Homo sapiens: one gene and its partners. The protein of the gene in region 1 interacts with the protein of each later gene in a pairwise test. Each region holds a gene or a part of one and is shown in the gene's direction. Other genes may lie near its edges. The genes, in order: FAM9B, RAD51B, FAM161A and TBRG4.

What was found.
Region 2: the proteins of FAM9B (region 1) and RAD51B interact in binary tests that used the Homo sapiens proteins (3 or more experiments, as listed by UniProt).
Region 3: the proteins of FAM9B (region 1) and FAM161A interact in binary tests that used the Homo sapiens proteins (3 or more experiments, as listed by UniProt).
Region 4: the proteins of FAM9B (region 1) and TBRG4 interact in binary tests that used the Homo sapiens proteins (3 or more experiments, as listed by UniProt).

The regions. Positions count from the first base shown.
Region 1 is NC_000023.11:9,030,560-9,038,413, reverse strand, and holds the start of FAM9B (protein FAM9B), read left to right. Parts: upstream 1-4,286; 5' UTR 4,287-4,562; intron 4,563-5,130; exon of another isoform or gene 5,131-5,292; coding exon of another isoform or gene 5,293-5,427; coding exon 5,428-5,455; intron 5,456-5,952; coding exon 5,953-6,073; intron 6,074-6,252; coding exon 6,253-6,284; intron 6,285-7,817; coding exon of another isoform or gene 7,818-7,846; exon of another isoform or gene 7,847-7,854. UniProt on the Homo sapiens protein: May play a role in meiosis.
Region 2 is NC_000014.9:68,473,599-68,479,343, forward strand, and holds the end of RAD51B (DNA repair protein RAD51 homolog 2), read left to right. Parts: intron 1-4,049; coding exon 4,050-4,066; 3' UTR 4,067-4,495; downstream 4,496-5,745. UniProt on the Homo sapiens protein: Involved in the homologous recombination repair (HRR) pathway of double-stranded DNA breaks arising during DNA replication or induced by DNA-damaging agents. May promote the assembly of presynaptic RAD51 nucleoprotein filaments.
Region 3 is NC_000002.12:61,829,850-61,837,779, reverse strand, and holds part of FAM161A (protein FAM161A), read left to right. Parts: intron 1-1,670; coding exon 1,671-1,770; intron 1,771-7,930. UniProt on the Homo sapiens protein: Involved in ciliogenesis.
Region 4 is NC_000007.14:45,100,781-45,108,710, reverse strand, and holds part of TBRG4 (FAST kinase domain-containing protein 4), read left to right. Parts: intron 1-2,611; exon of another isoform or gene 2,612-2,743; intron 2,744-2,946; coding exon 2,947-3,270; intron 3,271-3,668; exon of another isoform or gene 3,669-3,805; intron 3,806-4,001; coding exon 4,002-4,173; intron 4,174-4,228; exon of another isoform or gene 4,229-4,362; intron 4,363-4,454; coding exon 4,455-4,612; intron 4,613-5,267; coding exon 5,268-5,378; intron 5,379-6,219; coding exon 6,220-6,364; intron 6,365-6,640; coding exon 6,641-6,886; intron 6,887-7,096; coding exon 7,097-7,208; intron 7,209-7,338; coding exon 7,339-7,453; intron 7,454-7,930. UniProt on the Homo sapiens protein: Plays a role in processing of mitochondrial RNA precursors and in stabilization of a subset of mature mitochondrial RNA species, such as MT-CO1, MT-CO2, MT-CYB, MT-CO3, MT-ND3, MT-ND5 and MT-ATP8/6. May play a role in cell cycle progression.

The DNA.
Region 1 (7,854 bases):
AAAATGCCACTTAGCAGAATGATGCAAGTTCAAGTACTCTGTGAGTTGTGGCTTTTTCGTTATTATTTTTCTGTTTTAAAGATAAAAAGCTACATTAATTTCAATTTTGTTGGATTCAATATGGTCAGTGTACATTGAGTGCTCCATATTATACGGATACCTTGGAAACTGTTCTGGACCTTCAGATGTAGTTTAATGGGGAATATGACTTCCCAGATAACTGCAATATAAGGCAAATTTCCCACGACAGATAAAAGCTCTAAATGGGTTGCAAAAAGAAAGAGTGTCTCACATATTTAAAAGCACTGGGTGAATGGCTACATTAAAGAGGAAACATTTAGGGTAGGTTTGAAATTCTGATAGGATTTGTCTGCCTAGGAAGGAACATTAATAATATCAGAGGCATGTGGGGTAAAGTTTGGTTTTCCTGGAGAGCAGTCAAGTAAAAGGAGAGCCATGTGACAAACTTGAAACGTGTTTGAGGTCCTAATCTGGAGGTCTTTGGAGGTTGGCATTTGGAAAATGCTAACCTACCTTTGTTCCGGTTTGGAACATTTGTGCTTTATGAAGAGCTCAACTTTGTGTCTGATATGGTTTGGCTCTGTTTCCCCACCTAAGTCTCATGTCAAATTGTAATCCTCATGCTGGAGGAGGGGCCTGGTGGGAGGTGATTGGATCCTGGGGTCAGACTTCCCCCTTGCTGTTTTCGTGATAGTGAGTGAGTTCTCATGAAATCTGGTTGTTTAAAAGTGTGTAGCACCTTCCCCTTCACTCTCTTACTCCTGCTCCGCCATGTGAAGATGTTGCCTGCTTCCCCTTCACCTTCCACCATAATTGTAAGTTTCCCGGGGCCTCCCCAGCCATGCTTGCTGTACAGCCTGTGGAACCGTGAGTCAGCTAAACCTCTTGTCTTCATAAATTACCCAGTCTTGGTTCTTTATAGCAATTTGAGAATGGACTAATACAGTGTCCAAGCCACTCATTAGTCTGGTACATCATTTTCCCTGACCCCCTTCCTCCTGGACCCGGTCACAACATCTTTATACCTCTGTTTTTCAGTATCTGGATATAATAATTTCTTTTAAATTATGTTTTAATTTAATTTCCCTATAATCTAATTCCTTAATACATTTAGATTGTTTTAATAAAACAAATGCTAATTCGCACACAAAGATAAATGAAATGTTAAAGCATGATACAAATATTCTTACTGGGAAAGTATTCATATCAGAATTTATGAAAGGAATATAAAACATAGAAAATATAAAGAAAATCTTTCTGAGATTTTGAACTTAGCCTTCTCAGATTCCTACTAACTGCAACCAGATTTAGGCTCCCTTTATACCAAAACCAAACAAACTAACAACAAGAAAAGACAATACGAAAGAAAGATAGAATTTTGAAGCACTCTTAACGCCTTCAAGGAGACATTGTTAAAGTTTCATTTTAAGAACTGTGAAGAAAAGTAAAAGGAGTTTATGTTATTTAATCTGTAGAAAAGTAGCTGAGGTATTCAGTACAATATCATGGGTCAAGACTGAACTCATTCTCTGAGTGTGCATAGCTTCTAGGGCAGGAATTCAAAATGATCTGGAACTTAAAACAGCCTGAAACAGCTCTAAGGTGGTTTTTCCAGTGCTCTGGGCAACAGTTTCCAGACCACAGCTCCCTTTCTCTCTTCTCAAATACAACACCATTATGCTTTAATGCACCAGAATGGAACATTACCTTCCATGCTTTACTCACACTGAATGTGAAAAATATATCATGTGAACATTTAAGTTTTGAAGATACTTTGAAGATCATTTAGTGCTGGCTCTCATATTAAACAAACAAACAAACAAAAAACCAGGCCAGGCGCAGTGGTTCATGCCTGTAATCCCAGCACTTTGGCAGGCCGAGGCAGACAGATCACTTGAGGTCAGCAGTTCGAGACCAGCCTGGCCAACATGGTGAAACCCCGTCTCTACTGAAAATACAAAATTAGCCAGGCTTGGTGGCGGGCGTCTGTAATCCCAGCTACTCTGGAGGCTGAAGCAGGAGAATCGCTTGAACTCGGGAAGCAGAGGTTGCAGTGAGCCGAGATCCCGCCACTGCACTCCAGCCTGGGCAACAAGAGCAAAGCTCCATTTCAAAAAAACAAACAACAAACATCACACACACACACACACACACATTTACATGCAGGTGTGTACACACACAACAACAACAAGAAAACTTTTCTCCTATTTGCTAATGTAAGTCTTTCTAATTTTTTTTAAATTTTATTATTATTATACTTTAAGTTTTAGGGTACATGTGCACAACGTGCAGGTTTGTTACATATGTATACATGTGCCATGTTGGTGTGCTGCACCCATTAACTCGTCATTTAGCATTAGGTATATTTCCTAATGCTATCCCTCCCCTCTCCCCCCACCCCACAACAGTCCGCGGAGTGTGATGTTCCCCTTCCTGTGTCCATGTGTTCTCATTGTTCAATTCCCAGCTATGAGTGAGAACATGCGGTGTTTGGTTTTTTGTCCTTGCGATAGTTTGCTGAGAATGAAGTCTTTCTAATTTTTTAATCTTTTGGGAAACTGTAGGTAGAATAGAAGATAGTAGTGGCCAAGGAAGTACTATAGGATGTGGTGAGGGTTCATTGGTTGAAAGTGAAAGAAAATGCTCACTCTACTGCCAAGAGAGCAATTTAAGATACTATGCCTGTATCCAAGACAATACATTTGTATTTGGTCTCTCCTGGACAGACGGAGCTTAAACTCTCATATCACTGTTCATTTTCATTGATTGTTTTGCTTTTATTTTCTACGGTTTTGGGTTTAGGCACATTGATGCTGTGTTAAGCACAAAATGATTCATGTGAGATTGTCAGAGTAGATTGTGCCCTTCTCTTGTTCAGTGTACTCTGCCTTTAGTTTATTCATTTATTTTTTGCATTATTTTACATTCATGAGATATCAATTCTCAGATCCATATTTTCCTTTTCTTCATATTTTTCTGATATGTACTTTTTGTATCATTTTGTTTAATTCCATTCTTACATACAGCATATACTTAGGTTTTTATTTTGATCCAAGTTGGAAGTCATTTCCTTTAGAATGCGAGTTTATCTCATTCATATTTCTTGCTCAACAGATTCACTTGGCCTTAATTCTGTTCTTTTATGTTATGTTATGGTCTCTGTAGTATTTTCTTTATTTTCCAACTTTTACTACAGGATTTGTATGCTTTGTGTGTGCTCTTTTTGGTTATATAGGCATTTAAGGCTGTGGATTAGTTTTCCTGATGACTGCCTTTATAATTTCAATAGTATAATGAAACTCTGTATCTTGATTTACAAACTTTAGGCAATATTTATTCACTCCCAACTCCGAAACAACTCTCTCCCTATTACAGGGGATCGGAGGTGGGAAAAAGCTGAGTTAACGATAAGTATTAAGGCATTAATTTGTGGGTGAAGGTTGTGGCATATGTCTGGATAAGTCTGGAGTATGAAGGTTTGTGGGCAAGTCTGGGGCATGAGGATGAGAAAGAAAAGTAGTGAGGAAACAAAAAAGGTTATGGGCTGGGCACGGTGGCTCACGCCTGTAATCCCAGCACTTTGGGAGGCCAAGGCATGCGGATCAACTGAGGTCAGGAGTTCGAGACCAGCCTGGACAACATGGTGAAACCCTGTCTCTACCGAATATGCAATAATAATAATAACAACAACAACAACAACAACAACAACAACAACAACAACAACAGGGCGTGGTGTTGGGCTCCTGTAATCCCAGCTCCTCGGGAGGCTGAGGCAGGAGAATCGCTGGAACCTGGGAAGGGGAGATTGCAGTGAGCTGAGATCTTGCCACTGCACTCCAGCCTGGGCAATAGAGTGAGACTCAGTCTCAAAAACCAACAAACACAAACGATAAAAGCACAATCCATTGATTAAAAAGGACGCAGCTGGGCATGTTGGAAGCACACAGGGCATGGGAGGGAGCCTGGGCTCCACCCACAGGGTGATGGCCATTCTAGCCAAAGGGGCAGGGGTGGCTGGAACAAGCCCCAGGGCGAGGTTCTAGGCCCTGTCCACTTGGCCTCCATCCCAAGTCCTTGTGTCTCTCCCCAGGAGGAGAAGCTGAAAGATTGTGGGGACAGAGGCCCCAAAGGGCCACCCCCACCCCAGTCCACAGCAACCACGGGCTGTCACTTAGGGGAAGGGTGAGGGCGTGCCAGCAGGGGGCCTGGCCCCACACAGCCCGTCACACGCATGTGCACTGAGCCGACCAATCAGCGAGGAGCGCAGGAAGTCCTGCCTGCAGCTCTCACGAGAACTGAGGACCCGTTTTCTTTACTTTTCTTTTTTTTTGTTTTTTTGTTTTGTTTTTTTTGGGACGGAGTCTGGCTCTTGCTGCCTAGGCTGCAGTGCAGTGGTGTGATCTGGGCTCACTGCAACCTCCGCCTCCTGGGTTCAAGCAATTCTCCTGCCTCAGCTTCCTGAGAGGACCCGTTTTCTAAGAGGTCCTAGTGGTGCCGCTGCCTGCAGGTTCTTTGAGGGCGCCACATCAGGGGTCCCTCAGGTGAAGCACTCGTGGTGGGGAGGCGGGAACGCAGGCACGAGGCCCTCTGGGAACCAGGGTGTGAAGCGCTGGGCAGCCCGCCGACCTGTGAGGAAATGGCCCCAGCGTCGTCGCCTGGGGCCTGGGTCAGGGCGAGGCCCTGAGGGTGGGCTAGGGTGGGCTGGGGTGGGCCAGGGCAGGGAGGGAGCTGGAGCTGCCTGGGTGATCCCTAGGGCCCGGGAGGGTCCTGGGGGCTTGTGCATGTGTTGGGGGGAGGGGCCGAGGGGGGGAGAAGTGGGAGTGAGGCGGGGGTGTTGTGGGGGACAGTCTGAGTGGGGCCCTCCTGCCTGGCCGCCCGACAGGACAGGACACTTGGGGTCACCGGGGGTCACCGGGGGTCCCCTGTGCGTCCAGGGGGGCGAGTGGCAGTGCAGCCCCTGACATTCCCCTAGAGGTGGCTGGGGAGATCCTGTGTCACCCAGCGGCCCTCCCAGCCACATGGGGTCGCTAGGTGACTCAGAGGTAGGGCTGAGTTCTGTCCCAAAAGGGCGGCGAGGATCCCGCAGAGGCCGTGGAGTTCAGGTGTGAGGGGCAGCTGTGAGCTTTGCAGCCAGCCCCGGGGACGGGCTGGACGGGCCAGGACAGGAGGGGACACTGGCATCTTTTCCGTCCCTTCCTGCTCCCACATGAGACCCAGGGCGGGCCAGCCCCACCCTTCTTGAACCTGTGATCCCAATGGCTTTCCTTTCCGATGCCAGGTTTCCTTAGCTTCCTTAGTGTGTCTTTGCGCTCACCAGGTTCGGGGATCGCCTCTAGCTTCCCAGGACAACCAGCCACGGATCCTGTGGGCAGGAGGGCTGCCAAGGCCCAGTTGGAGGCTCAATTTATGGCGGCCTGGGGGAAGAAGCATGCAGGTAAATACAGCCCAAGGGGACCCAGAAGAAGGTGCACGCCCAAGAGGACGGTCTGTCTGCTTTCTGCGCTGGGGGCACAGGGGCAGCCCGAGGCCCCAGGCCCCTTCGTGGCTCTGGAGTCCATTGTGCACGTGCTAAGATGCGCCAGGTTTTCAAAGCAGGCTCAAGGGCCTTAGGCTTCCCCGTGGAAGGCTCCCCCTCATAGCAGGGTTACAGATGCTCTCAGAGCAGCTCTTCTCCATGGGTGCAGTCCTGACATCCAAGGGGTCTGAACTGTAGTACGTTGTTTACTGGAACCTGAACCCGAAGGGCTTCCAAAAGTCCCTCGATAAAATGGTCAGGAACCGGTGATTCCATGTATAGCTCTGCTTTAAAGCTTTAATTGGCAGAGAGCCCCCCCCCCCCAAAAAAGTCTACAACTAGTACATTTCTCCACAAAAAATGTCCACAGCAGCATCTTCCTCTAAAAAAGGTTTGTCTTTTACATTTTAATGCAGGAAAGGATCCAGTCCGTGATGAATGTGAGGAAAGAAACCGTTTTACAGAAACAAGGGAGGAAGATGTAACTGATGAGCATGGGGAAAGAGAACCTTTTGCTGAAACAGATGAACACACGGGGTAAAGTGTTTAAGTCACTTTTGCCTGTCGGATAGGGTCTTTTAGGAAAAGTCAGCTTTGGACCATGTCATCACTGTTCTATTCTATGCAGAACATTTCACATAAGACATTTCTTTTCCCAACAAACATGGCATTTTGTGTAGTATTTTGTTAAAATTTTGATGTAACTTTTTTTACAGGGCTAATACCAAGAAGCCAGAAGATACTGCAGGTATGTTTTAGGAGTTATCTGTAGTTTATGAAAATTGTTTTCAGTCATACAACTGTTGCAGTAGGTTATATGAATTAGTGGACGACAAGACTGTCTTAAATGGCTTCTCATATGTAGCATTTAACGTACGTATTTAATGTAATCTATTTGATAAATTTTTCTTACCTTTTTGATTGTTGATGTGGAATGTGAGAATGCTTCTAATAATGGTGAAGCGAGATGGATGGCTTTTCTTTCATACATGTGGAAATTTAATTGTTTGGAGGATATTAGAGGACAGTGGAGGAGAAACAGCTCTATTCGTTCCTTTTAGTATACACAGATTAAGTCATATATCAATGGTTTTTTTTAGCTTTTACTTTAAGTTTGGGGGTACATGTGGAGGTTTGTTATGTAGATAAATTGCATGTCACAGGGTTTTGGTATACAGATTATTTTGTCACCCAGTTTATAAGCATAGTACCTGATGGGTGGTCTTTGATCCTCACCCTCCTCCTACCCTCCACCCTCAAGTAGGCCCAGTTGTCTGTTGTTCCTCTCTTCCTGTCCGTCTGTACTCAGAGTTTTTAATATGAGTTTTTCATGTTCCTAATTTAGCTGTTCTATTGTCACAGCTTTCTGATTTTGTTTTCTTTAAAGTACAAGAGAAAATTGAATTTTCTAAAATCATTTTCTATTATTATTCCAGTAATAAACTGTGTAGTAGAAAAGTAAGGACAACTTTTCTACCTAGTGAGAAACATGTAATTGGCTCCAAAAACTCATAAACTTTATATTGCTGTGTGAAATATTAGTTACACTCTTATAGGACCATATTTTCAAAAAAGTTTGAGAAAATTTCTGTAGAGATGATGGAGACAATACTCTTATTTTTAAAAAGCTCAATTCAGTTTTCAGCTCTTCTCTAGCGATGATTCATACAAGCAGTATATTTGGAAAGCTTGGTGACAAAGTGCTGGTTTTGTGAGCTGCCTAATACATTGGGCATTATAGATGGAGACTGTATGTAAAAAATATTTGCATTGTGGTACAAATCTTTTATGATTGCTGAAAATTATTCTTAGCAATTGATGGTAGAGCTCTGATGTGAAATCATGTTTAGGAAAGCATTCCTTGCAGTATTACAGTTTTCTGAAACACAGCACTATGGGTACAAATGTCATAAAAAGCTCCAAGAAAACATTTCAAAAGTGTTTTTGAATGTATTTCTTTACCTAAACCTAAATTTTTATACTCATGGCCATTGCTTCTTTTATTAAAATACAGTTAATAGCATCAATCACTAGATTGCTTAAAAATGCTTTTCTTATTGTGCATTAAGTTATTTCTACCCTTTTGAGGGTTCTATTATATAAGATACTTTTTTGTGTGCTTTACGTAATGAATTGTGCAGTATTTCATGGAAGCATCTCCTTTGAATTGTAGGACATTTTATAAATGTAGAAATTAAAGTCTGTGCTTATAACTCTTTCTGCACATTTAAAAAATAGAGACTTTTAATTATTTGCTTTTTTTCATCATCTGTCAATTAAGTGATTTTCAGTTATACCAACTGGAATTGAAATGCGAA
Region 2 (5,745 bases), on another chromosome or scaffold:
TATAATATATGAAAAAAAATTTTAAATACAGAACAGTACAGAAAATCATAAAAGAAAACAGGTGAATCTAACACCCCAAATAAATACTAAAATTTTGTCCCATTTGTTTCAGATTTTTTTTTTATTTACAGGAATGAAACTTGACAAACTTTAGGACTCCTTTGTACCTATTCCTGGTCCATTCCCTCCTTATCCCACATTCCTCCACAAAAGTGGAAACTCTCCAGAGTTTGGTCTACATCTTTCCTCTCCATTCTTAAAAACTTTTCTACATATATGTGAATCCACACATAGTATAATGATTGATTTTGAGTGCATTCTGAAATTTGCATAAATGATTTATTGTACACGATTTCACAACTTGCTTTTGTTGCTTAACACTGTTTTTGTAATATAGCCATGTGATACACAGGTCACATGATACACAGGCCACGTGATACACAGGTCACATTCTTTCACCTTAGATATCCACATCCATTCAGTGTGTGAATGTACCACATGCTACCCACTCCCCTACTTATGGAAATTTTGATTATTTGTAACAATTTTATTACCTGTGCTTCTTGATGTTTAGGTATGAGAGTTTCACTAGGTATATATAAAAAATGGAATGGCTGGTCAGAGTGTCTACACGTTTCCATTTACTATATCTTCCCAAATTGCTCTCCAAAGACTTTTACCAATTTATACTCGTTCTGGAGATAGTAGACCAATTTCTCTGCAGCCTCGTATAATCGTTAAGTTTGTTGTCATCTTTCCATAGGCAGTCTTCTCATGCCTTCTTTAGGGATGCACTGCACTCTAGCCTGAGTGACAGAGCAAAACCCCATCTCTCTCTATCTTAAAAAAATTCTTCATTTCCCTAAAGTTAACTATATAATAGTTCCCAGAAAGTGAGCTTTTAATCTCATCCATCACCCTGATTCTCACTTGAGGAAACTGAGTTCCAGAAAGGTAAAGTAATGTTCACTGCCTCAAAATTGGGTTTGTAGCCATTTCTAAGCCCTCAGCCTGGGCTCCTAAGATTTTAGAAAATCCGAAGTGGGTTTGGGCCCTCTCATCTTCCATCAGGGAAGCCCCTGTGACAACTTACCTCTCAGGCTTCATGAGCCTCTGTTGAGATACTTCAGGCCTGTCCTGAAATTTGAATCTGGAAATTCTAAGCTAAAATGGATTGGTCATACTGATACAATAATCCTTCAACGAAGTCCCTGAGTGCAGTTAGATTATAAGTTTGGCCAGGTGTAACTATAACCTAAACTAACAGTGGTATACATGATAGAGATGTACTGCTTCCTCCTGTAGTGCCGAGGAGGAATGCAGTCCAGAGCTGGTTTGGCAGCTTAGCTCTACATGTCTATCGAAGAGCCCAGGCCATTGACTTTTTGCTCTGTCACACCTAGGATGTTGCCGTTACCATGGTCCAGAATGGTTCAGCATCATGCCCTCCATCCCAGTAGCAGGATGTGCATGAGATAGAGAATGGTGGTGGGAGAGAAAGCATCCCCCATCCCTTAAGGACATTAACCAGAAGTTATACACATTATTTCTGTTTATATGATGTTGGCCAGTCTGTAAATATATGATCAGAAAGGCTAAAAATATAGTCATTAATCTGGGTGGCCATATACCCAGCTAAATTTCGGGATTTCTGTTATCATGAGAAAAGAAAATGAATATTCGGTGACACAGCCCTTTCTGAAGAGCCCAGTTGCAGAGATTAGGTGCAATAGTACAGACGTAAGGGCTGGGCTTGTTGCATAATAGAGTTATACTCTTAAAATGCAGCATAAATATTGTATGTATTGAAAAGTGCCATCAGGACCCTCTTTGGTTCCAGACTCTAAAGTAGAAGAGAAAGGGTATCACTTCACCAAGGATCAGCACCCAAAAATCTTGTTCTGCCCACCCAAAACAGAATCTCCTTCAGGAAGGAACTTTAGTATGTGTTTTGCTTTTATGCAGTATCCAGGAAAGAAACTTCAATGAGAGCTACTATTGCTTATAGCACAAGGCAGGGCATGAACTTGGGTCCAAAGTCATAGACCAAACACTTTTTTTTTTCCAAAATGTTTTTTCCTACCTCCACTTTTAAAAAAAAAATGAAACAAAATATCAGTTGAAATAACATTATTGAGAAAAACTTTATTCCAAGGCCTGGACTATAGTTAGACTGGATTTACATTTCTCTTTTAGAACCTGGAAGCCACTTGGCTATCTTTGCAGAGTTAACAATTTGCATTTGCAAAAATGGCCAGGTAACAGTACCAAAATATGTTAAATCAATTCAGGTTGTTGATTTTCTTTGAAAGTCTCTTCCAAAGAACTTCATGTTCTTTCTGGAATATGATTTAAGCTGCATTTCAGTGAGTTCAGTTCAGCAAATATTTGTTGAGCATCTATTGTTCACAAAGCATGGTGCTCAGGGGTCAAGAGATATAAGGCTGAAAAAAAAAAAAAAAAGGTCCCTTCCTTTTAGTAGCCCAGAATCTAGTTAGGAGAGATGTAGTTAAATAAGTTTAATCAAAAGCCAACTGTGATACCTATTACCAAGGTTCAAACAGTGGAATATAGAAGGATAAAGGGAATAGACTTATTCCAAGTAGGATGACTGAGGTAGGTTCTTGAGAGTACGTGGGACTTGGACTGGATTTCAGCTTGTGAATACTGACAAAAACCGCATTCCATTGTCTCTTGACAGAAGCCAATTTCTTTTGCTATTTGAGGATAGATTCAGGGACACTGGGGAATGCTGATTAGTTCCATCACTAATGCTGATTAGTAGTGAATGTTGAGTCATGCTGACTAATGTGTTCTAAATGGATTGACTCAACAATAAAGGCAACGTTGAGAGTCAAGAGTTCAGATCCTGAATTTCACCGATGAAGTGTAAATCATTTCGCCACTTAGTGCTTAATTTTTTTGTCAATTAAAATGTGCTCGTGGGTGAGAATCCAGTAAGTCATCTTGACCCATGAGGGCTTTACAAACTTCAAGGATAACAGACAGCTTAACAGCAACTACCAGGACAGGCTTATGCAACCTCAGGTTATTCATAGCTCACACAGAGTCAGAACACCCATCACATGCTGCTCGCCAGCCATGCGAAACTTCTGTTTCCTCACACATGCCATGAGAACTGACAAACAGTGCACTGAACTCACAAAACCCGACAAATAGAGGAGCTTTTGAAAAATCTTCCTATCTACCTACTGGGGTGTCTGTGTCTTTCTACAACAAATGTCGCCACAGAACTAAGGGCTTGCATTGCAGACACAGCTCTTTCTCTCTTTTGACATCTCCCCAGCTAGACTGCTTGAGAACCTGGCCTTCCATGTCCAGATGTTTACTGAATTCTGAAGCCCTCCCAGAGAGCCCAGGTTCTTTTGTTGCTCTCCAAATCATTTCCCACAGAGGCTGACCAGTGTCCTGAAGGAGCCCTTCAATAGGGAGGATAAATGAAGGCAGATGAAGACATGACCCCCTGAGGCTTGCCCACATCCACTGGAACAAAGGGTGTGAGGCACAACCTTGTAAGGAGTGTTTTGGTCAGCCGCGTCCCTATGCGAGGCCAAGTCTCCCCCACAGGGCTGCTTTCAATGGCTACCATCATAGTGGAAGTATTGGGCATTTGTTAAGGACTGTGGTGTGCTAGATATAGCACAAAACATCTAAATCATGGTCCCCTGCCTTTGTGAGGGCTTCCTGGCTACAGATGGCAGCTGGCTTTCTCAGGGGAAACTTGGGGGTCATAGAGAAAGCTGAAGAGGGGTGCTTGCTTCTGTGGATGACCTCTTCCCACCCAGTGCAGCGACACTCCCCTTTTGTCTATAGCTATCCTTAGTCAAGCCAGGGCTGCGGGACCCTAACCCACACTTCCGCTGTGTTTCTGGATCTCTGGTTTGCAAGGCCAGTGGCTCTGTGGGCAATACGTATGAAAGAGGACTGCTGTTGGAGGAAAGTTCCATTTAGGTTGCTGGTGGGAAGTTAGTGCATTTCATAACAATTTTTTTTTTTCAAACTTTCTCTTTTTTTTTTTTTTCCTTTAGGCCAAGAGAAGCCATAGGGATACTGTGACCTTTGTCTAGAGTTGATGGGGGTGTGATTTGTGAAATAAAACAGGACCGTACTGCTTGGAAGAAGGAAACGGAAGCTGACATAATGGGGATTAATTAGTTGATTGCTGTTGAGATGGTAACAGATTTGCTCCTAAACCATTGAGCTAGCGATTTCAGACCTAGCAGGGAAGGTGAAGATGAAGAAGCCTTTGTTCAGGTCTCTAGATGTGTAGGGCTGAGGGCTTTGCCGCCATGGGATGTCAACAGCCATAATAATAATTTGCACTTATATAGCACCTTTCAACCAGGCACCTCAAAGCGGTTTAACCACATTAATTAATTAAAGCCCACAATCCTCCTGGGGAGAGGAGGAGGATGACTAACAAGATTTGTAATTACAGGAGGGAACATTTCCGAATAAAGTATTGTCTACCAGATAAAAAGAGTAGGTGTAAAGGAATTGGGGTCTCCAAATAGTAACCGATTCAGAAATGAAATCATGGAATGATGTGGGAGGCTGGGGGCGGGCATGGGCAAGGGGGTCGACTCTGTGTCAGAGGGAGGTCGATGGGCTCAGAATTCACTGACAGGTTCAGATCCAGCCGAGAAGTGGAGCATGTATGGTATTAGTGGCATTTGAAGGTCATTAGTGGCATAACTATTGTAGTGTAAATTCAAGTTTTATTGGTATATTGTGTATAGCCCTGCAGAACAAAGACTGAGACTCATGCAGTATTTAATAAAGGATGAAATGATTTCTTTAGATTTAAAGCCCAAAGCTGGGCCAGTCAATTAGCAAATAAATCAATTGGTGACCCGTAGGATAATTTAGTCGTTTCCAGTAGAACACCCAGCCTACACACTCCTACTGCCATGAGGCTCTGATTGAAGCATCAGACTGGGTTCAGGGCAAGGTCTGGGGGCTTTAGCCCCTTCAAAGCCAGGCATTAAATCTTTCCAGCCTTTGGCCTTGTGACCTATCTTACCCAGGTTGTTAGTGACCTCAAGCTGTCCTCTGTAGAATCACTTTGTACCTGCTCCTCCATCAGAGATTTTTAGTGCATTGAGGGCTAGAATCAAGTCTCATCCTATTTCATGTCTCCTATGAGTGCCCAACAGAGTGCTGTGCACCAAGTAGGTGCAGATTGATGAAGATTGATGAAGAAAGACTGAGTCCTTTAACGACTCAGTATTTGTTGAGCGCATACCAAGTGCTCAGGTAAAGCTTGAAAACAAAGCTCAGTGTGTGCCTGCCCTCCAAAAATGTACTCCAAGGAATGGGAAAAGACTTACAAACTATTAACTATAATATAAAGCAGAATCACATCCAAGCCCCGGGCAGCAAGGGCAATAGGAAGAGCATCTTATTCAGCTGGAGTGAATCAGGGAAGGTATTGGTGTGCTGTGCATCGGAAGGCAAGAAGGATTTGGGTAGACCTGGAAGAGGCAGAGCAGGAAGATGTCCCAGGCTGTGACCATGTGTCTCCCTCTGAGTGAGGTACATTTTGAGAACTTGGGATGTTCAATAGAATGTTGGTGAAAACCAAGGTGAGTTTTCGTATTTAATCAGGAAATATACATTTCCTGTGGATTCTTATGACATGAATTGGTTAATTTCAGACATCAAGGGACTATTTGAGAAGTTGGAGGTAGGGTTCAGGATACAGTACTCCAAAATCCGGCACGT
Region 3 (7,930 bases), on another chromosome or scaffold:
AGGAAGTAAACTATTAATAGCTTTTTATTTTTTATTTATTTATTTTTTTGAGACAGAGTCTCGCTCTGTCACCTAGGCTGGATCCCGAGTTCAAGCGATTCTCCTGCCTCAGCTTACAGAGTAGCTGGGATTACAGGTGCTCACCACCACGCCTAGCTAATTTTTGTATTTTTGGTAGAGATGAGGTTTTGCCATGTTGGCCAAGCTGGTCTCAAACTCCTGACCTCAGGTGATCTGCCTACCTTGGCCTCCCAAAGTGCTGGGATTACAGGCGTGAGCCACCGTGCCTGGACAATAGCTTTTTCATAACACCAACTTGTGTATAATTAAGCCTAATTATCATTTAAAAGTATAATTATTTTCCCCAATCCATTAATCTTATTTATCTTGGTAGCAATTATATCTTACATAGAGAAAATAGTGTAGTTTAATTTATTATAGGATCTTGCTCAAACAGTGAGAACACTTACGGTAAATTTATATATTTTGGTTCCTGTTTCTCTTTATGTTGTATTCCCATGCTCTTTACTTCTCCTTTGACTTGCTCCCATTGAATTAACTTTGCCACTAACCTGTAGGAGATCTTATTTAGGGGAAAAAAATAACAGCAAAGGCTGGATGCCATGGCTCACATCTGTAATCCCAACACCTCAGGAGTACAAGGCAGGAAGATTGCTTGAGCCCAGGAGTTTGAGACCAGCCTGGTAAACATAATGAGACCCCCATCTCTACAAAAAATTTAAAAAAATTAGCCAGGTGTGGTGGCATGCCCCTGTAGTTCCACCTACTCGAGAGCTAAGGTGGGAGGATCATTTGAGCCCAGGAAGTCAAAGCTGCAGTCAGCCATGATTGCACCACTGCACTCCAGCCTGGACAACAAAGTGAGAACCTGTCTCAAAATTAATAGGCCAGGCGCAATGGCTCATGCCTGTAATCCCAGCACTTTGAGAGGCCAAGACAGGCAGATCACCTGAGGTCAGGAGTTCAAGACCAGCCTGGCCAACATGGTGAAACCCTCATCTCTACTAAAAATACAGAAAATTAGCCAGGCATGGTGGTGCACACCTGTAATCTCAGCTATTCGGGAAGCTGAGGCACGAGAATTGCATGAACCCAGGAGGTAGAAGTTGCAGTGAGCTGAGATTGTGCCACCGCACCAGCCTGAGCAACAGAATGAGACTCCATCTCAAAACAAAAGTAAATAACAACAACAATAAAATAATAATAAAAAATAAGAGCAAAGTCTTGTTTTCAGGAGAAATTCCTTACAGAGAAGATAGCTAATTTGTTCCAAAATTTTCTTGGTTTTATACACTTATAAATGAGACAAGAGGACTTTCATTCATCTTTTCAGGGCAGTTTGAAGTCCCTTAAAATATTTATGCCTTGAGGATTTCAGAAATTAAAGTGTCCAGACTATTCCTAGAGCATAATATGTGTGATCTCAGAACCTAGGATTTTATTCTGCATTCCATGAGAATTAACCGGTATAGAAGAGGAATCGAGGTAAACTGTGAACTGTGCTTATAATTTCTGATTTGTCAGCTAAGCTAAATGTTATTTCTTTTTTTTCATTGACTTTGTACAAGTTGATAAGTTAAATGTTACATATGTAAGTTCTTATTTCTTAGATGATCTTTTAAAATTCCATTGCTTTTCTTTAATTTTAGAAAGAGCGAAAAGGAAAGGATGAGAGAATACCAACGAGAACTAGAAGAAAGAGAAGAAAAATTAAAAAAGAGGCCACTGCTATTTGAAAGAGTTGCTCAGGTTGTGTTTATTGGAATTTAAGAGCTATCGTCAGTTTTTTTTTTTTTTTTTACAGCTTTAGCTCCTAAATTTACAGTCCATTTTTCTTATGTGTTATATAACTGTTGAGATACATTATTGTTGTTTGTGTTGGCTTCATCATATCAGCCAATGAGTAATTTTGCTTAAATCCGAGCATTTAGCCAGGTGTGGTGGTGTGCACCTGTAGTCCCAGCTACTTGGGAGGCTGAGGTGGGCAGATTGCTTGAGCCCAAGAGTTTTGGTCCAACCTGTGCAACGTAGCAAGACCTCATCTCAAAAAAATAATCTGAACATTGAATCTTTTTGATGAAGCACATAAGTTTGATAAATAACATGCCAATCCAGTAGTTCGTAAAATAATTTTGCAAGCTGTTTTCTAATGGCTGGTCTTTTTTCAGTACAAACTTGGTTAGATATTAAGATGAGGCTTCATGATATCACTTGGAGGTCTTTGAAGAATTAAAAAAATGAAACAAAATGGCTAATTGAATCAGAGTTATTTCTGCTAGTTTTTTTTTTTAAGTGAGTCTGTAATTCAATCTTCTCTGCAATTACTAAAAGAACTTCCTTTCTATACGAAAAACAAACTAGTCTTACGGACAGTGGACCCTGATTTTACTAAGTTTATGCCCGGTTTTACAACCTTTCCCTTAAGGGAAATTTGTCAATTTTAGGTCATCTTCTCCTTTGTCCCATAGGGGAGGCATCTGTATGGGTGACATGGCTTAACAATTGACAAAATCACTGGAGGTTACAGGTTCTAAATTGTGAATTTGAAGCTGTTATAATTGGACAATAGACAGTTGGAGAATTTACCTGTAACAGATGAGCATAGTTACAGAACTGTACTTGCCAGTGACTCATTGAGGACAGTGGACATGTATTGTGGGTGAATCTGCACATTACAGTCTCTCAAAGTTACGTAATCTTTTTGCTCACTGATCTAGATATAATTTTATATAATGCCTTTCATTTTAAGTGATGGATTTTTTTAACATCTTTATTTCAACTTTAGGGGGAAAAATCATTTTAAGCTGTTCTACATTATAATCATAAAGTGATTGGCTTTTGGCTCAAAGACATTATCTCCAGCTCTGAACTGCAAGTTTTTTGTTTTTGCTCTTTACACTGCTTCTGGGTTTTTCTTATTTATTTATTTATTTATTTTTTCAACTTTTATTTTAAATTCAAGGAGTATATGCGCAGGTTTGTTACAAGGGTATGCCAGGCGCCGTGGCTCACACCTGTAATCCCAGCCAGCATTTTGGGAGGCCGAAGCAGGTGGATCACCTAAGGTCAGTGGTTCGAGACCAGCCTGGCCAACATGGTGAAACCTTGTCTCTACTAAAAATACAAAAATTAGCCGGGCATGGTTTTGCGTGCCTGTAGTCCCAACTACTTGGGAGGCTGAGGCAGGAGAATTGCTTGAACTTGGGAGGCGGAGGTTGTAGTGAGCTGAGATTGCGTCATTGCACTCCAGCCTGAGCAACAAGACCAAAATTCTATCTCAAAAAAAAAAAAAAGGGTATATTGTGTGAGCTGGGGTTTGGGGTATGATTGAACTCATCACCCAGGTAATGAGCATAGTACCCAATAGGTAGGTTTTCAACCCTTGCCCTCCTCCCTCCACTCTCCCTCTTATATTCTCCAGTGTCTGTTGTTCTCATCTTTATTTCCATGTGTACCCAGTGTTTAGTTCCCACTTGTAAGTGAGAACATATGATGTTTGGTTTTCCGTTTCTGCTTTAGTTTGCTTAGGATAATGGCTTCCAGCTGTATCCATATTGTTGCAAAGGACATGATTTCATTCTTTTTTATGGCTGTGTAGTATTCCATGGTGTATGTGTAACATATTTTCTGTATCCAATCCACTGCTGATGGGCTGGGTTGTTACCATGTCTTTGCTGTTGTGAATAGCATCAGCACTTGTTATTGTCTGTCTGATTTTTTTAGAAAAATATTTTTAGAGACAGGGTTTCACTCTGTTGCCCAGGCCAGTGCAGTAGTACAATCATAGCTCACTGGAACCTTGAACTCCTGGGCTCAGATGATCCCCAGTATGAGCATCCCAAGTAGCTGAGACAAAGGCCCACACCATCATGCCCAGCTAATTTTATTTTTTGTAGAGACTGGGTCTCGCTGTATGGCCCAGGCTGGTCGTGAACTCCTGGCCTCAAGTGATCCTCCCACCTCCACCTCCCAAGTTGATGGGATTACAGGCATGAGCCACTGCACCTAGCTTTTGTCTGTCTTTTTGTTATAGTCTTCCTAGTGGGTACAAAGTGGTATTTTATTATTCAGTAACATTCTTTCAACTGTTCTTTTATCTTTTTCATTACAGACTCTATCTACTAGCTTATTGATATGGTAGGTGAGGATTTAGCTGTTTTAACACGTCCTCTCGGAAGCACACTTACCTACCCTTTCAACGTCTTTCCATCTTTCTGTTTCCCAGTCAGCTCTATCACAGTTAGATCGGAATTCAGTGTTATAACTTAGTAAACAATGTTAGCAGCTGAGCCCTATATTATTATCATCACATTTCCTTTTTTTTTTTTTTTTTGAGACAGAGTCTCACTCTGTCACCCAGGCTGGAGTACAGTGTCACAATCTCAGCTCACTGCAACCTCTGCCTCCTGGGTTCAAGCCATTCTCCTGCCTCAGCCTCCTGAGTAGCTGGGATTACAGGTGCGCGCCACCGTGCCTAGCTAATTTTTTTGTATTTTTTAGTAGAGACGAGGTTTCACCATGTTGGTCAGGCTGGTCTCGAACTCCTGACCTGATGATCCGTCTGCATTGGCCTCCCAAAGTGCTGGGATTACAGGCGTGAACCACCATGCCTGGCCCATCACATTTCCTTTAAAAAAATTTTTTCTTGTGTTAATAATTACTAATTTTGTTTGGTCCTCCCCCCACCTTCCCTCATTCCCCACCAATGTATGTATCATTATTATTCTTAGGCTTTTCTGTTAGCTCTCAAAAATCCCCCTCAAACAGTTAAACACATTCGTAATTCATCAGTTCCTTTCCTCCCCTGGAGCCCACAAGTGTCCTGCTCCACTTTGGAATGGTTTCTCTCTAGGCCAGCAGTCCTCAACCTTTTTGGCGCTAGAGACTGGTTTTATGGAAGACCATTTTTCCACAGACCAGGGTTGCGTGGGGTGGGGTGGATGGATCGGGAAATGGATCATTTCAGGATGAAACTGTTCCACCTCACATCATCAGGCGTTAGATTCTCATAAGGAGCATGCAACCTAGATCCCTGGCATGAGCACTTCACGATAGGGGTCACCCTCCTATGAAAATCTAACGCTGTAGGAGGCAGGGCTCAGGCCATAATGCTCGCCCTCCCACTGCTCACTTCCTGCTGTGCAGCCTGGTTCCTAACAGGCCACAGACCCGTACCTAGTTCGTGGTAGGGACCCCTGCTCTAGGCCTCTGGCATAAACGACATCTTAGGACTTTTTCACTGTTATACTGGGGAGTAGTTAGATATTAACCTGGATTTATCTACATTTCTTGTATTTCTTTTAAAATCACTGTTATTTTATTCTAGTTCTGGAAGATTTCCTCAAATTTATCTTCCAAATCTGCATTTTTTGCTTACCTAATGAAAAATGACATAATTTCCAGAATGCTTCCCATTTATTAAATATTCCTTTGGTATTTTTCATGGGTGCAGTACGTTTTTTTTTGTTGTTGTTGGTTTTTTGTTGTTGTTGTTGTTGGTTTTTTTTTGTGTGTGTGTGACAGGGTCTTACTCTGTCCCAGGCTGGAGTGCAGTGGCATGATCTCGGCTCACTGCAACTTTAACCCCTTGGGCTCAGGCAATCTTCCCACCTCAGCCTCCCAAGTAGTTAGGACTACAGGCACAAGCTACCATGCCAGGCTAATTTTTGTATTTTTTGTAAAGACAGGGGTGTTACTGTGTTGTCCATGCTGGTCTTAAGCTCCTGGGCTCAAGAAATCCTCCTTTCTCGGCCTTCCAAAGTGTCGGGATTCCAAGTGTGAGCCACCACACCCAGCCTGTCTTTTATATCTCTGAGCATACTGGTGATATTGTCTCTGTTTCCTTCAAGTTCCTTTTTCTCTTTTTTAGCCTCTTGTCTATCATATTAGAAGCTTTCCTCAGATTATCTTTGGTTGTCTGTTTGCATTTAAGAGGGAGACTGCACAAAGCTATTTGGAAGCTGGTTTATAATGTTTTTTGAGAGGTTGCTGAAAGACAAGCACTCCACTAAGCACTTTATATGCATTGTCTTAACTGACCTTTACACTGCTCCTGTGAGGTTCTTATTTCACAGATGAGGGACATCTTGAGGCTTAGATGATACAACCAGAAGAAGGGGAACCAGGATTCAAACCCAGATCTGACTGTCTTCATGTGATTCTTTTATCTATCATATTGTTTTCCTGCCCCCTTCTCAACAAATGCTTTTTGAATATCAGAAAATCCCTTGAGACCCTTAAAGTCAGATAGAAACAAGACAGACAAATGTAGTCATTCAAGACACACAATTGCAGCAATTACAGATGTGTGTTGAGACAAAATTGTGAATATGATTGTTTTGGAGGTTGGGGGAATGGTCAGATTGATATGTTATTTTTTTCTGTTAACCTCAATTCCAGGGAGCAGGTACATAACCTGGGAATACTAATATTTGTGTTAGTGACATGCGAGGCTTGTTCCAACAGGTCTAGAAAAAAAAAAGGAAAGTAAATAAATGCTAAATTAAAGGAATCATTATGGGTGATACTATAATACAAGAAAGAAAGTATGAAGTATTATTTGGGAAGACCAATATTGAACACATATGCAGCAATGATTTATTATAGTGCTGTTTGTCTAAGAAATATCTTTTTTTTTTTTTTTTTTTGAGAAGGCGTCTCACTCTGTCACCCAGGCTGGAGTGCAGTGGCTCGATCTCAGCTCACTGGAACCTCCGCCTCCCGGGTTCAAGTGATTCTCCTGCCTTAGCCTCCTGAGTATCTGTGATTACAGGCGCGTGCCACCATGCCTGGCTAATTTTTTTTGTATTTTTAGTCAAGACGAAGTTTCATCATGTTGGTCAGGCTGGTCTCGAACTCCTGACCTTGTGATCTGCCCACCTCAGCCTCTCAAAGTTCCGGGATTACAGATGTGAACCACCACATCCAGCCAGAAATATCTTTATATTAGAAAAATTAGGCCAGTGACTCACCCTGTAATCCCAACACTTTGGGAAACTGAGGGGGGGAGGATCATTTGAGGCCAAGAGTTTGAGACCAGTGTCTACTGTTCTCATTTTTTTTTTTTTTTTTTTTTGAGACAGGGTCTTACTCTGTCACCCAGGCTGGAGTGCAGTGGCGTGATCTCGGCTCACTGCAACCTCTGCCTCCTGGGTTCAAGTGATTCTCCTGCCTCAGTCTCCTGAGTAGCTGGGATTACAGGTGCACACCACCATGCCCGGCTAATTTTTTTTGTATTTTTAGTAGAGACGGGATTTCACCATGTTGGCCGGGCTGGTCCTGAACTCCTGACCTCAAGTGATCCACCTGCCTCGGCCTCCCAAAGTACTGGGATTACAGGAGTGAGCCACCGTGCCTGGCCTACTGTTCTCATCTTCATATCTGTGTGTACCCAGTTCCTCCCCATTCAGCTGGTCATTGAGAGACCTGTCAAATTTTCTTCCTAAATAATTTTTGGATCTGCCCTTCACCATCCTTGGTGGTGAAATGCCAGGTGGAACCTTTATTTCCTATCTGAATCATAATAGTTTGATTGATTTTTCTGCCTTGCTCTTTGCAGAACCATTCATTATACCTTCGCCTTACCATTTTCATTCCCCTACTAAAATGTTAACCCTGGGTAGACAATTAATAAGCCTTTATAACAGGGACAATCATCCATTCTCACCAATTCCATTTATTCTCATTTTCAATGAATGATATCAAGGGGTCTTCTCATTAACTTCTCAAAAAGTATAAACAGAGTTACCATGGCAGTGAATCGCCATTGCTTTTTTTTTTTAGTACATTTTTTGCTGCAGTCTATTTTGCTGGAACTATTGCTGCTAATTAACAGCTGGTTTTTAATAAATTTGCTTGCAGCTATTTGCTTTGCCCATTTATAGGAGTTAATTGTGGTCTCGCTGCTGCT
Region 4 (7,930 bases), on another chromosome or scaffold:
ATTTTTTATTTTTTTATAAATTTCAAAGTGCTTTATCGTGCTTTCTCTTTGTTTATCCTTACAAGAGGCCTGTTAGGTAAATATTGCTATGCTCGTCTTACAGACAGCCAAGACGCATAGTGATAGAAGCATGGGAAGTGAGCCTGGTTCTTCTCAGTTCTTTGGGTGCTTTCCCCCTCACCATATAGTCTTGACTTGTATTGCTCTCTGCCAGTGTCTGGCTGATGGCAAGGCACTGTTTTTGAAGCCAAAGGAGATGCAGCATGACTGATGGAAGGTCCTTGAAACTTGAGACAGACGTGGGCATGATCTAGCCATGTTCAGACCCTCCAAGGATGACCATGGAGAGAAGCAACAAGACCCATTTGTGTGGCACTGAGCAGGGCAGAACTCAGACTACAGAAGCCAGTTCCTGCTCACTGTGAGGGACTCCCTTCTTAGAGAGTCTTCCCCTGGGCTCCATGTACAAAAAAAGGAGTACAGACTCCTGCTGTGGCTGAACTGGCCCTAAATCCCTGGTCTGCTTTGGAAGGGAAGTGCTGGGGCACTGAAACCATGTTTCCAGTTGTCAGGTGTAATGAAGAGAAAGGCACTATCCAAGGAAGGAGTTGCACTAACTGAGTGCTTTTCAAACTGCAGGTTATAAAATCAGTGTAGTGGGATGTGGCCAGCTGATTCTTAATGAGGTAGAGTAGTATAAAAAATACCAGAATTCATCACATATAGTAAGGGGATTCACTAATGTCTCATGGAACTTTTGTTCTAGTTAAGGATGTATATATATGCCTGTGTTGTGTGGACTGGGGTTACAGTACATAATTATTTCTTGCTGGGGATATAATTCATAAAATGAACTTAGTTAGGCCCCCTTGTTATTTGGCTACAATTCTAATTGCTGTTTATTGACTCTTTTTACTCACATGTGATTTAAGAAAGTCTTATGATGCAAGACTGAACATTGTAACAAAATTATAAGGCAAGTATCTGTAATGTAATAACAGCTTTCTTTTCAAAGATTTTCCTGCTGTCCATGAAACCGGAAGGTAGACACCCAGATCTTCTGTAAGATTAGAATTTACTCCAGTACTTTCTCCCTCCTCCCCAGCCCTTCAGACAGCAGCTTCTCTGTTCGCAGCTCACTTCCTTGAAGGTGTGGTTTCTGCTTCTCATTCATAAGCGCAGAGACTGAACCTGAGGGTTCAGTGTTGAGAGACTTGGCCCAGGAAAGGACAGAGCCATACTTGTTTTACCATCTGCTCTCTTCTGCAAGGCTGGATTCAGGGCCAAAGGGCTCTAGAGCCACCCATGTTGACACTGTGGGCCCTGTGGACACAGTACCTGAATAGCAGTTACCCTCTTCAGAAACAAAGCAGGCACCAGCAGAGAGGACGGGCTGTGGTGCAGGTTCCGGACCCAGAACTATGTAGAAATAAGTTCACCTTCGTTTACCTGTATAGTGGGACTGATGGTTCTCATAGGATGTTGGTGTCTCATGGGGGTACGCACACAGAAGGATGCCTGGCATTTAGTAAGAGCCTGTTCAGAGGTGCTGCTGGTAGCAGCAGCAGCTTGGTCATCCCTAGGAGGCCTCTGCATTTGGGAGTGGGCAGGGCTTAGTGATACCGGGGGTCTTTTTACCCATATGTCAAAAGCGTTCCTGCAAACCTTTGTGCCTGGGGTGCTCCTCCCTTTGCAGGCAGTTGAGGGTCTGGCATGCTTGGGTGCCGCGTCCCTGGAGGGTAAAGGTGGTGGTTCACTGCCTAACGCACTGCAGGGACTCCTGCTTATTGCAGCAGTTGCATTCCTAAGAAACTTTCACGTTGCCAGAAACTGCGAGATTGGTTTGTTAGAGAACAGTTTAGGGGTTGGAGCTTCTCTGACTCAAAAACAAATTATTTTCCTGGAGAAAAGCCAGTGTGTTTTGTTTTGTTGTTTGAGACAGAGTCTCACTCTGTCACCCAGGCTGGAGTGCAGTGGCACAATCTCAGCTCACTGCAGCCTCCACCTTCCAGGTTCAAGTGATCTTCCCACCTCAGCCTCCCAAGTAGGTGGGACTACAGGCATGTGCCACCACACCTGGCTAATTTTTGTAATTTTAATAGGCACAGGGTTTCACCACGTTCACCAGGCTAGTCTCGAACTCCTGACCTCAGGTGATCTGCCTGGCCCAAGTTTTTAATACCTAAAACTTTTAATGTCGTTGCAAGTAAAAGTCACGAATGATAACAAAACTGATCTTAGCAAGCGTAAGTGCCACCTTCTCTGCCATCAGGTGACATCCATCAGGCTCAACTTTTTCTCTGACCTCTTGTATTGATTTGACAGCTTTACTTGCAGCTGAAGTCTACGTGCCCACTACCCAGAGCTGTAGCCAGGACCATGTAAAAGAGTGTGGTCTCTCTTTAATCAACTACATTAGGTCAAAACTTCATTGGGGAAACTTGGAGAATTTCCCTTGCCACTCTAGAGTTCTTGCTTGCAAGCAATTGCAAATGACCTCAGCCACCTTGAGCAGAAATGTGCTATTTATTGTAGCCTAGAGGATCAGGCTCAGAGGTGTACCCTTGGATCTGGCCTGTGCCTGAGGGGTGCTCTGGCTCTGCAGGTGCTTGGCAGCCATGTCAAATTCAGTGCCTGCCCTGTCTATGGTAGGCACTGGCCCAGAAGACTGCCACAGAAACAGTGACTCACAGGCCCTGTTACTGTGTCCCAGGCTCAGGGATAAATTTGGTTACAGACACCAAGCGTCTAGGCCTCGAGGCTGAGCAAGGCTGTGAGGAGCAGCCAGGCACTGGGGCCCTGTTACAATGGAGTGGGGAACTGATACTGTCTTCTCTGAAGAGTTGTAGTAAATGCTCATGAAACAAGGTTCAGAGAGGTAGCCTCCAGCTCACACACAGGACTGACAGTGCCACATCATTTCTCCTGTGTCCTTTCTCTGCCTAGATTGCCTCGGTCTGGCATGGTACCCTCTCGAAGCTGCTGGGAAGCCTGTATGCTCTGGGCATCCCCAAGGCCTCCAAGGAGCTGCAGTCGGTGGAGCAGGAGGTCCGCTGGCGCATGCGGAAGCTCAAGTACAAGCACCTGGCCTTCCTGGCAGAGTCCTGTGCCACCCTCTCACAGGAGCAGCACTCGCAGGAGCTGCTGGCTGAGCTGCTCACACACCTGGAAAGGCGTTGGACAGAAATTGAAGATTCCCACACATTAGTGACCGTCATGATGAAGGTGGGACACCTCTCGGAGCCACTAATGAACCGCCTGGAAGACAAGGTACTGGGCCTGAAAGCAGGTGGCACCCAGCCTGCCTCCCCTGGGCTTTGGGCTTGTTCTTTGGGTGACAGTTGTCTGCAGAGGGGTGCGTTGTGTGCACTGGGATCAGAGCCCTGGGAGCTTCTGTCTGGAGCCTCAGGCATCACATGGGGCAGGACCAGAGGGCTCGGAGCTGCAACAGGTGGTTGCCCTGTGGCTGCATTCATCAAGCACCACTTGCTCCTCCCAACACAGGCGCTTCCCTGATTGCACCTTTATCTTTCCCCCAAACCCCATCACAGCACGATCTTGAGAGGGGGGCATGGCAGGCAGCTCCTGAAGTAACACAGCTACTGCCCAGGCCTGGCTTCTGGCTAGAACTCTCCTGGAGATGTGCTAACCCCTATCGGCTGTAGCCCTGCAGTCAAGTCAAATTCAGTGCCCGTTTCTGTCATAGCGGGGGCTGGCCCAGATGGCTGCCACAGCAAGCTCCACAGCTCATGGGCCCTGGGTCACCTACCCTGGGACCTGGGGATAAGTTTGGCTGTGGACAGTGCTCCAGGTCCAGGGGTTCCCTGGGGTGGATGAGGAGGCAGGCCCTGCACAGTGGTCCTGTGTTTAGTCAGCTCAGGCCCAGTCTGACAGGGGCTGTCACAGGGGCTGCACTGGATGGGACCATGGGACCCCTGCCCCCAGCTCATCTCTGCCACCCCAGGCCATTGAGCTGACCTCTGCGCGGCTGTGGTTGACAGTGCCTGGAGTTGGTGGAGCACTTTGGCCCCAATGAGCTGCGGAAGGTGCTGGTGATGCTGGCAGCTCAGAGCCGGCGGTCCGTGCCCTTGCTGCGGGCCATCTCCTACCACCTGGTGCAGAAGCCCTTCTCTCTGACGAAAGATGTGCTCTTGGACGTGGCCTATGCCTATGGTGAGCCCTTTGGACAGAACGGTGGAGAGAGGGGAGCGCTGGCCCTGCAGATGCCTGCAGCCGTGTCAAATTCAGTACCTGTCCTATGCATGGTAGGCACTGGCCCAGAAGGCTGCCACAGAAACACTGTGACTCATGGGCCCTGTTCCTGTGTCCCAGGCTCAGGGATAAATTTGGTTACAGACATCAAATATCTAGACCTCGAGGCTGAGGTGGGGTGGAGCTGCTGGGTGATTGCTGACTCTCTCCAGCTAAACCCTGTGATCTGCTCTGTCCTGAAGGCAAACTCAGCTTTCACCAGACCCAGGTGTCCCAGCGCCTGGCCACCGACCTGCTATCCCTCATGCCCAGCCTGACTTCTGGTGAGGTGGCCCACTGTGCCAAGTCCTTCGCCTTACTCAAGTGGCTCAGCCTGCCCCTGTTTGAGGCCTTTGCCCAGGTGAGCCAGGGCCTGGCCCCAACTCAGAGAAGCTGGCTTCCTGGCCATCTGCTGGGAACCATTGCCTTAGTCGGGAAAGTAAAGCCAGTCTGAAAATGCTCACTTGTGGGGGCAAATACATATTTCTTGCATTTTGGCTTATTTTGAAAGGGCTGCTATTCAGTTCTCAAAAAAGTGTTTGAGAACTGTTTCCTCTGTTCTTTCACTGACCATTATAAGTGCTTCCATCCATTTTGGGGTAGCTGTAGCAGGTAGCAGCATGGCTGATGAGACTGAGAATCCACTGAGAACTGTCTACTGAATCACTGATCCCCCTCGCAAAGTGGAACTGTACAGAAAGATGACACCTGCAGTTACGTTTATGTGTGACCAGTCTAAACTAAGTTTACTGGTTGGAGAATATTTCTAAATCCCTTATCAGAAAGAAGCAGCTTCTAGGTGTCCCCAGCCTCTGTGGGTAGTTGCTGCCAGGCGAAGGAGTGTCTGGGCCTGTGTAAGTCCTTCTCTGTTCCCGACACAGCTCATGGGCCCTGGATGGAGGGTCCTGCCATTGCCCCTGGCCATGCAGGCTCTCCTCAGACTCAGAGCCAGGCAGGAGGACAGCGTGCTGGGCAGAGAGCTTATTCTGTCCCTCTGCTATTTCTGACCCACCCAGCACGTCCTGAACAGAGCGCAGGACATCACCCTGCCCCACCTGTGCAGCGTACTTCTGGCTTTTGCGCGTCTGAACTTCCATCCAGACCAAGAGGATCAGTTCTTCAGCCTGGTAGGGCCTCTGGGCTCCCACTGCTCGACCTTTATCCTCCCCTTCAGCTAATGGCTCATGAACCGTCCTCCCAAGATCAGCTCGGGCTAGGTGGAGGCGGGAGGGGCCACTATGTGTGGCATGGGAGGGCAGGGGGAACTGATTGGAGCCAGGCATCCTAGGGATTACTGAGAACACATGAAATCCTGCTGTCTGGTTGACTGCCCTGCCAGGCAGCGCTGGGGGGTCCTGCCTCTGGTGCTCCTTTTAATGCCCTGTTGATGCTCAGAAGCTCCAGTGGGCCTTCGTGCTATGTGCACCAGCTCAGGGCAGGAGGGGGAGCCTTCTTTATGAAGACCTTAGGACAGCCACAGAGGCCAGCAGGCCAGGTGTGATCCCAGGCTCCCTGGGATTCCATCAGGGGTTTGTCTGGCACAGTCCTGAGAACAATTAGCCAGGGGCTGGGGAGTGCTGCTTCACCTCTTGGATGCTCTCATCTCTCAGAGGACCAGAGATTCCTCCTTCCTTGTCCCAGGTGCTCACTTGGAGACATTATGGGAGAAGGGATCTTGTTCCCTGCCAGTAGGTTGGTTGTAGTAAACCTAATCAAATGCCAGCATTCAGCAGCACTCTTCTGCTGTTCAGAGTGGTCTTGGGGCATGAGGAAGATTCCTGGTACCTTCAAGCCCAGGATTGCTCCAGGCCTCACCAAGGGCCAGGGTTCTGCCTCTTGTTACCTAGTAGCCTCCTCTGGCCTCATCCCAACCAGGCCAAGACCACATCATGGATTGTGTCTCACCCATGGCTATTTGCAGCCCCTAAGGAGAGCCTGCTTTCTCCACCACACTCTATCCTTGCCCAGGTACATGAGAAGCTGGGGTCAGAGCTGCCAGGCCTGGAGCCAGCCCTGCAGGTGGACCTGGTGTGGGCCCTGTGTGTGCTGCAGCAGGCACGGGAAGCAGAGCTGCAAGCCGTCCTCCACCCTGAATTTCACATCCAATTTCTAGGTGAGCCCCCTGCCCCTAGTACTACTGGAACTGGGAAACTGCCTGGTCTTGTCTGCCTAGTGCCAGGTGAGAATTTGGGGCAGATGGAGGCCAGGGCTCTCCCTCCCCCTCGCTCTCCATCCTCTCCCTGTAGGTGGCCAGCAGACCGTAACTCTGCTGCCTCCTGACCCAGAAAACTGGGCTGGGACTGGGTGTAGGGGTGCACTGCCCTCTCATCAGGGTCTCCCCATCTCTGGCCGTAGGCCCACCTCCCTCTTCTTTCTCCTTGTCTCCTAGGGGGCAAGTCTCAGAAGGATCAGAACACCTTCCAGAAGCTGCTCCACATCAACGCCACTGCCCTGCTGGAGTACCCCGAGTACTCGGGTCCCCTTCTGCCTGCCTCGGCTGTGGCCCCTGGGCCCTCAGCCCTTGACAGGAAGGTGACCCCCCTGCAAAAGGAGCTGCAGGAGACGCTGAAGGGGCTGCTGGGGAGCGCCGACAAGGGCAGCCTCGAGGTGGCCACGCAGTATGGCTGGGTGCTGGGTGAGGGCTCCCCCTGGTTGGCACAGGGCCTGGCATTGCCTGAGTCTAACGGGACTCTTCTAACCCACCCCGTCTGCAGCAAGTACTGACCTAGGGAGCTGCAGGGTGTCAGCCTGGGCTCCCCACAGTCCCATCTTTGTTCATCTTTCCTGTGGGGGGGTTTCTGAGGGATGTCCCCCAACATGTTCTCATCCCACACCCCTTCCCCAGATGCTGAGGTGCTGCTGGACAGTGACGGCGAGTTTCTGCCCGTAAGGGACTTTGTGGCACCTCACCTTGCCCAGCCAACTGGGAGCCAGTCACCACCTCCAGGGTCTAAGAGGTAGGTGGCCAGGGACCTGTTGGCCATGGGGGCACCATGGCTGTTGGACTGCATATTCTTTGCTTTCCATCTTTCCCCTCCGAGGGGCTGGGAGAGTGGAAGCATGTCAGCCACCTCTTCTTCCTTCCAGGCTAGCGTTCTTGCGGTGGGAGTTCCCCAACTTCAACAGCCGAAGCAAGGACTTGCTGGGTCGCTTTGTTCTGGCCCGGCGACACATAGTGGCTGCAGGCTTCCTGATAGTGGACGTGAGTACCTCTTGGGCAGGTGGTCACTGCACAGGGAGAATCCCCAACCCACGCTAGAGAGGGGATCAGGTGGAACTGAGCCAGCAGGTATAGACACATGCCCTGCCCGTGGCCCCGGGCCTCTCCCAGGAGCCCAGGGAGGGAGTTTACTGTGGATCCTAGCTGCTCCAGCCTCCCCTCTAACCTTCCCAGCATCTCACCCCGTGGGTGAACCCAAAAAGGCAACCAAGCCTGCTTATTCAGCTTAAGAGGTGGGCAGGGTAGGGCCCATTCACAGATGAGCAGCTTGAAGCCCAAGAGGCTGCACAGCTGTTGGGGCTCTGAGTGCAGCTGCTCTGCCCCCTTGGTCAGCGCCTGTTGTCAGGAAAAGTAGGACCAGTGGAACTGGCAGGAGCAGAAAGATGCAGGTCTTGGGCCTGACTCTGGTTTCACACCTGGGAGACCTTGGTTAAGATCAAAGGTGGTCACCTTCCCTGG